2 linked regions of the Homo sapiens genome follow. The gene in region 1 interacts genetically with each later gene. Each region holds a gene or a part of one and is shown on either strand. Other genes may lie near its edges.

Region 1 (4,490 bases):
GAGCAGGTGGGTGGTTCCACGCTTCCCAACTCCACTGATTTATTTCCTCAGGCCATCCTGGATTCTGGCTTCACCCCTGTTAGTGTGCTGAGGCCACACTTCTTGGGCCCTCCTCCGGTCCCATGCCACATCACTAACCACAGCTGGTCTCCTCAAATTTGGTATGTGTCCCGCCCTCTAGTTCCGGGCCAAATCCTTCAGACTCTAGATTCGTGAACCTCATTCACCTTCTTCTTCTAAGCTAATGCCTCCCTACCTTGGTCCTTTTCTATTTTCTGTACTCTCTATCTTGTCCTGGTGACAAGGCCCTCCAGGCCTGGCCCCACCCGGCCACCCTGTCCACCTCCCACCACCATCCACTGGCTGGTGCAATCTGCTGTTCAAGGCATAAATTTATTCAGTGCCCAGCCCCTCCTTCTGCAAGGTAACCACCTAGAAAGTTAGTCTAACACCCTTTCTCTGCCCTGTGTGGGGAGCCTGTGGAAGCTGGTCTCAGGATCTGGCTGGGTAAACCATCTGTTTACCTCTGTGTGGGTTCTGACACTCCTAGCCAGTTCTGTTTCTCTGAACCTTGTTTCTCCACTCTGCTTGCCAAGTCCCTTTGTCTTATTTTTTTCTCCCTCTCCCTCCTTCCTTCCCTCCCCCCATCCTTCCTTCCTTTTTTCCTTCCTTCCTTCCTCCCTCCCTCCCTTCCTCCCTTTTTCCCTCTCTCCTTCTCTCCCTCCTTCTCTTCTTTCCTTCCTCTCTTCCTTCCTCCTTTCCTCTTTCCTTCTCTCCCATTCTCTTCCTCCCCCTCTCTTCTTCCTCTTTTTATTTTTGTCCCATGCTTTAGGCCTTCCTTGGCCCTTCCTGGCATTGCTTTTCCTGACAGCAACACTCAATAATTTTTAAAAAGCACCTGAGCCCTTTGTGTTGACTGATGCCACCTCTGTTGTGGTGCAGATTTGTTTTAGAGGCAGATGTCCAGGGACGCTGAACACTGAAATCCATCCTGCAGAGCTTGCTGTAGGCAGAGTAAAGAAGTTTGCTCTGTAGTTTTCCCAACAGCCTTCTCAAATCCATGGGAGACGTCTCAGACACCTTGTATTTAATAGACAAGGAAATGAGCTCAGGAGATTTGCCCCAGGTTGTAAATTAAATCAGCACAAAGGTAGAAATGAACACAGAGCTCTCAGATTGGAAGCTGTCCAGACAGCTGCATGGAGCAGGGGCACAGCTCACTGTCTTTCAAAGCCTCAACCAGGGCTGTTGCATCTCGGACACTTGGCAGTTACTGGAAAGTCATGTTAGGCTTTCCTGTTGATTCTTTATCTTGTGGAGGAGTTGCACAGTCAATGCCTTGTTCAAGATTAATCATTTTCCCTGTTGCCTATGACTGAGGCTGTTTCTCACATCCTGCCCCTGGTTTTGCCTGTCCCAAGGATTTCGTCTGAAGGGCGGGACATTCCCCCTGCCTCTTCGCACCACAGCCAGAGCCTGCCATTAGGACCAATGAAAGCAAAGTACCTCATCCCCTCAGTGACTAAGAATCGCAGTATTTAAGAGGTAGCAGGAATGGGCTGAGAGTGGTGTTTGCTTTCTCCACCAGAAGGGCACACTTTCATCTAATTTGGGGTATCACTGAGCTGAAGACAAAGAGAAGGGGGAGAAAACCTAGCAGACCACCATGTGCTATGGGAAGTGTGCACGATGCATCGGACATTCTCTGGTGGGGCTCGCCCTCCTGTGCATCGCGGCTAATATTTTGCTTTACTTTCCCAATGGGGAAACAAAGTATGCCTCCGAAAACCACCTCAGCCGCTTCGTGTGGTTCTTTTCTGGCATCGTAGGAGGTGGCCTGCTGGTAAGTCATTCAGGATTATTACTGAATTCTCTCCTGTTTCCTAGATGTTTTCATTATGTATTTTCATGGAAAGTTTTTTGTAATGCATATTTCTAAATCAAGTGACTTTTTTGTTGCTGTTCATTCCTTTGAAAGCAGATTATACAAAAGCGAGATTGGTACAGTATAGCGTAGTAATTTTATGAGATGTTGTTTTACAAAATGCTCTTTCAACTAAAAGTGAACTGCCTTTTTGCTAAACTCTATAGGTAGGAAACAGATATTCGCTTTTAAATCAGATTTGAGAGACTATAGAGTTTCTACTAGAACGGGCAGTCATTTAACATTTGCTCTGGGGAGCCGGAAGGGGTTGGCTGGTTCTCTGCCTAAATCAACAGTTTTGAATCCAAATTCTCTGCTGTTTATTTTCAGCCATCTGTGATAGGGAAAAATAATGAATTGTGAGTGCATTGCTATTTTAAAAGAACTCTAAGCTTTCTCCTTTATGTAAGGCTGGGGTGTGGCGTCTAGGAAAAACCCTACAGTTAGCAGCAGGTCGGTGTCTGAAGCTAATAGTGGAATGTGTTATTTTTTCCAAGAATTGTTTTTGATTGAAGTGAGAGGAATTTCCCTGCCAACCTGGGAGCTGAAAGCATTAGCTTCAACCACAGCATGGAAAGAATGTGAGCAAACTTAAGTTTGCTACTTTAAAGTGCTGGGATTAAAAATTTTAAGGAGAAATTTTATGGAATGGTACCATACGTGATAAATTTTCTTAATCAAGTAAAAGATAGTAAAACATTTAAACCTAATACACTGATTATGGCATGGCAAATCTGCCCTAAATTATTTATTTAATGAGATTTTATTTAATTTTATTTTATTTAATGAGACGGGGTTTCGCCATGTTGCCCAGGCTGGTCTTGAACTCATGGGCCCAAGTGACCCTCCTACCTTGGCCTCCCAAAGTGCTGGGATTACAGGCATGAGCCACAGTGCCCGTCTGCCTCAAATTTAAGCATTATTATCATGTTAACATGATTATTTGTCTTAAACATAACATCACACTTAAGTTTCTTTCGATCTTGAACCTGAAGTATTTCATATTTACTATATTTTAAGAGCTTAATATTGTTAAGTTAAAACTATGCATTTGTATAATCAAGGAAGCAGTTAATATTTATTATATATAGCTTTCATGTCTCCCATTTACAAAAAAGTTTCAGTTATTCTATTAAAGATTTGTTGGTATATTCTGCATTTTACAAGTGGAAAAAATCAGATTTAAAGAAAGGGTTTAATATTTCCAAAACAGAGTTTGTTATCTGGGGTCGTGTGATAAACTCTTGTGGAATAAACACGTTTACAGTTTATTATTTTACTCCTCCCATGTTACATCCTCACCCTAAAAAATGCTTTGACAGATTACATGAAAACAAGCAGATATGACATTTAAATGGTCTTTTTCTCCTCAGAGGTTTACATTCTTTGAGATATCTGGTCAACCTAATCAAAGCCAGTTAATGTCATTGGAAATAAATATATTTTACCAAGAGATGCCTAACCTGACCCATATGAGCCTGAGCAAGACAATGACCTGACTTTGTTTGTTTCCTAACCAGATGCTCCTGCCAGCATTTGTCTTCATTGGGCTGGAACAGGATGACTGCTGTGGCTGCTGTGGCCATGAAAACTGTGGCAAACGATGTGCGGTAGGTCCTCCTGCCCTGGTGGTGAAAATGACTCCTAAGATGTAGCTGTGGCACTCTGTGGCTCACTTCCTGTGTGTCTGCTTTTCCCTAGATGCTTTCTTCTGTATTGGCTGCTCTCATTGGAATTGCAGGATCTGGCTACTGTGTCATTGTGGCAGCCCTTGGCTTAGCAGAAGGACCACTATGTCTTGATTCCCTCGGCCAGTGGAACTACACCTTTGCCAGCACTGAGGGCCAGTATGTAATTACTCTCTACATGGCTACACATTTTTATCCACCACATGTATATAGTGGCAGCTCTATCAAACCAGATAGGCATCCACTTATCCATCCATCCACCCACCTAGCCAGTGTTTATTCTCACTGACTCAGGCATGGTTTAGGCAATAGGTATCCAAGGATGGATCCCCAGTCCCCGACCTAAACAAATTCTAAATGCTTCTTTTCTTTTCTTTCTTTCTTTTTTTTTCCCCCAGAGACAGGGTCTTGATCTGTCACCCAGGCTAGAATGCAGTGGCACAATCATAGCTTACTGCAGCCTCTAACTCCTGAGCTCAAGCAATACCCCTTCCTCAGCTTCCCAAATACAGAGTGCTTTTGAATAGATTCAATAATTCAGTCCTTATAATAACCCTATGAAGTGACTTCCTATTTTAAAGATGAGGAAACAAAATCACAGAGAGATGGAGTAATTCATCCAAGGTCACGTTGCCAGAAAGTGGCAGTTAGCATTTGAACCCAGGCAGTCTAGATGTAGAGTTTGTGTTCATATAGTGCATCTCAATTACTTCATACATTATACCAGAACAATTGCCTGATTAAGTGTAATACATTTTACTACTTTATAAGAAAGTATTATAGAATCCATATATAATAAGAATGGCAACTATATGAATTTAACCCAAGCCCAGGGCAAACCATGCCCTTACCCCTGTGTATACATGCACTCATATAAA
Region 2 (3,812 bases), on another chromosome or scaffold:
CTGGCCCTTTCTCACCCTCAGTTTCCTCACCCGTAGAAAGGAAACAGTAGTTCCAGCCCCTCTGCTTCCTGAGACAGGTCCAAGGGGGCTCTGGGCTGGGATTACAAAGTATGTGTGTGCAGACGGGTGGGTTGCTGCTCTCAGGGAATGGGGTTGGCTAGGGTAGCTTTTTTGGGGAGTCAACTTTATTGAAGTAAATATACGGTTGACCCTTGAACAACACAGGGGTTGAGGGCATCAACCTCCTCCCTGCAGTCAAAAAATCATATATTAACTTTTGACTCCTCAAAAACTTAACTACTAATAGCCTATTGTTGTCAGAAAGCCTTGTAGATAAAGTTGATTGACACTCATTTTGTTTGTTATATATATTATATACTGTATTCTTACAATAAAGTAAGCTAGTGAAAATAAAATAAGAAAATCATATGGCCGGGTGCAGTGGCTCACACCTGTAATCTCAGCACATTGGGAGGCTGGGGCAGGCGGATCACTTGAGGCCAGGAGTTCAAGACCAGCATGGCCAATATGGTGAAACCCTGTATCTACTAAAAATACAAAAATTGGTCTGCTGTGTTGGCGCACGCCTATGATCCCAGCTACTCAGGTGGTCAAGGCATGAGAATCACTTGAACCTGGGAGGCGGAGGTAGTTGCAGTAAGCCGTGAGTCACCCCACCACTGCGTTCCAGCCTGGGCGACAGAGTCTTGCTGTCTCAAAAAAAAAAAGAAAGAAAATCATAAGGAAGAGGAAATATATCTACTATTCTTTAAGTCGAAGGGGATCATTATGAAGGTCTTCATCCTTCACATTGAGTAGGCTGAGGAGGAAGAGGAAGAGTTGGTCTTGCCGTCACAGAGGTGGCAGAGGTGGAGGCGGAGGAGGTGGAAAGGAAGGCAGAAAAGGCAGGCACACTCAGTGTAACTTACTGAAAAACATCCAGCCACGTGTGGTGGCGCATGCCTGTGGTAATCGCTACTTAGGAGGCTGAGGCAGGAGGATTGGCTGAACCCAGGGGTTTGAGGCTGCTGTGAGCTATGATCACGTCACTGCACTCCTGCCTGGGCAACAGAGTGAGACCCTTTCTCAAAAAAAAAAAAAAAAGAAAAGAAAAAGAAAAAATCCATGTGTAACTGGACCTGCGCAGTTCAGACCCGAGTTGTTCAAGTGTGCACTATACACCAAAAAGTGTGCCGATCGCAATGGTACAGCTCAGTGAATTGTCACAGAGTGGACCCACTTCATGATTGGGCTCAGACAGTCTGAAAACCAACCCCAGAGGTCCCCTTGCATTCCTTCCAGTCTCCCTGTCCCAAGAGCAGCTATCCTGACAGCATGGATTAGTTTGGCCAGATTTTGAACTTTATTCAAATGGAATTACATAATATGTACTTTCCTGTGTCTGGCTTCTTGGTTAACATTTTATTTATTTATTTATTTATTCATTCATTTAGAGGCAGGGTCTCACTCTGTCGCCCAGGCTGGAGTGCAGTGGTGTGACCTTGGCTCACTGTAGCCTTGACCTCCCCAGGCTCAAGCGATCCTCCCACCTCAGCCTCCTGAGTAGCTGGGAGTACAAGCACGCAGTACCACCCCCGGCTAATTTTTGTATCTTTAGTAGAGACCGGGTTTCGCCATGTTGCCGAGACTGGTCTTGAACTCCTCCTGGGTTTAAGCCATCTGTCTGCCTCAGCTTCCCAAAGTGCTGAGATTACAGGTGTGAGCCACTGTGCCTAGCCATCATTATGTTTTGAAATTTATCGGGATTGGCCAGGCACGGTGACTGGCACCTGTAATCCCAGCATTTTGGGAGGCCGAGGTGGGTGGATCACCTGAGGTCAGGAGTTCGAGACCAGCCTGGCCAACATGGTGAAACCCCATCTCTACTGAAAATACAAAAATTAGCTGGTTGTGGTGGTGCATGCCTGTAATCCCAGCTACTCAGGAGGTGGAGGTTGCAATGAGCCGAGATTGTGCTACTGCACTCCAGCCTGGGTGACAGAGCCAGACTCCATCTCAAAAAAAGAAAAGAAAAGAAATTCATCAGTGTTATTTAATGGTTGGAGTTTGTGTTGGAGTTTATTTAATGGTTGGTGTTTACTGCTGTACGTAGTCCCTTTTGTGAATATGCCACTGTTTATCCATTTTCCTCTGGATCGGCATCTGGGCAGCTCCCAGTTTGAGGTTTATTACAAAGCATGCCACTTGTAGCCCTCCTGTGCCTGTCTAGGCAGACACATGTCCTGTGTCCTCTCGGTGTGTACCTAGAAGTGGGGTTGGTATATGTTTAGAGATGCTACCTGGGCGGGATTTTGCAGGTGAAGGACCCAAGGACCCACAGAGCATAAGGGACTTTCTCAGATCACATAGCCCCTTCTCAGAGCTGCTCCGGGGCCCCTTTCCCCACAGAACAGTAGCTGGAACCAGGCCTGGGGCTGACGGTCAGGTGTCCATTGTCCCACTAGCCCCCTTTGCTCCTTTCTATCAGTCCTGGAAGGCCCCCTGTGGCCTTAGGGTTGGTGGCTCCCTCTGCCCCTGGGGGTCCTCAGCCCTCATGCTCCTCTACCCAGTACCGTCAGCCTGCCAGGACTGGAGAGAATGGCCCATGTGTCAAATCCCAGCGCAGGACACTCTTGGCACCTGTTCATGCCCAGTGAGGAGCCAGATCTCAGCAGTTGGGGGGCATTTCTTCACACCCCTCCTCAGTCTTCATGCTCTTCCCCACAGCTCTAATGGTACCAAGTGACAGGTTGGCTTTACTGTGACTCGGGGACGCCAGAGCTCCTGAGAAGATGTCAGCAATACAGGTACCACAGGGGTGAGGGTCTGGGACATGCAAGCATTCCCACCAGCCCCAGCGGGGTGCTTAGCAGAGGAGAGAGGATGCAGCTTAGATCAACCCACTCCCCTTTTTCCCAGCACTCAGTCAGGTACAGGCCTGGGGAAGTGGGGGAGTCTCAACAGGAAGGGACCCAGGGCTCGTTCTCCGGGCAGAGCACCTCACCCAGGCTCACAGAGGCCAGCTCAGAGGCTGTGACCACGAGGGTGCGCCAGCAGGTGGCTGGAGGGGGCCCAGGCTGCACCCGCCCACGTGTCACCTGCCTTGCAGGCCGCCTGGCCATCCGGTACAGAATGTATTGCCAAGTACAACTTCCACGGCACTGCCGAGCAGGACCTGCCCTTCTGCAAAGGAGACGTGCTCACCATTGTGGCCGTCACCAAGGTAATCAGGTGACGCCCACCCCACCATCCCACTGCTGGGCCTTCCCTCTGCAGGGGGAGGTGGGCCTGAGAGCATGTCTGGGCTGCCCTCTCCCCAGGACCCCAACTGGTACAAAGCCAAAAACAAGGTGGGCCGTGAGGGCATCATCCCAGCCAACTACGTCCAGAAGCGGGAGGGCGTGAAGGCGGGTACCAAACTCAGCCTCATGCCGTGAGTACCACGAGGAGGGGTTGGGGAGGGAAGGGGCCTTGGTCCTCCTGAAGGAGCATCAGGAGCAAGCAGGGAGGCCAGAGTGAGGGGCTTGGGTGTTGGGGAGGGCCTCAGGAGGAGGTGCAGGGTGCGGGTGCGGGACCTCACAGAGCAGGGCTGGGGGCAGAGGCAGGAGGGTGGCAAAGAAGGGACAGGGAGCAGAAGAAGAGGGCCTCAAATGCCTGACTGAGCGAGTGCGAGCCACGGGTGCCAAGCAGAGGGAACCCCTTCAGAAAGGGGAGCCAGGGTCAGTACCTTTGGGCCACCATGACCTCCAGCCCTGCTGCTCCCCAGTTGGTTCCACGGCAAGATCACACGGGAGCAGGCTGAGCGGCTTCTG

Evidence for each region.
Region 2: changes in TM4SF1 (region 1) and CSK are lethal when combined (synthetic lethality), as found in Homo sapiens cells (one large-scale study listed by BioGRID).

Annotation. Positions count from the first base shown.
Region 1 is NC_000003.12:149,374,724-149,379,213, reverse strand, and holds the start of TM4SF1 (transmembrane 4 L6 family member 1), read left to right. Parts: upstream 1-1,564; 5' UTR 1,565-1,666; coding exon 1,667-1,843; intron 1,844-3,444; coding exon 3,445-3,534; intron 3,535-3,625; coding exon 3,626-3,771; intron 3,772-4,490.
Region 2 is NC_000015.10:74,795,506-74,799,317, forward strand, and holds part of CSK (tyrosine-protein kinase CSK), read left to right. Parts: intron 1-2,706; exon of another isoform or gene 2,707-2,727; 5' UTR 2,728-2,792; coding exon 2,793-2,807; intron 2,808-3,109; coding exon 3,110-3,223; intron 3,224-3,320; coding exon 3,321-3,433; intron 3,434-3,766; coding exon 3,767-3,812. UniProt on the Homo sapiens protein: Non-receptor tyrosine-protein kinase that plays an important role in the regulation of cell growth, differentiation, migration and immune response.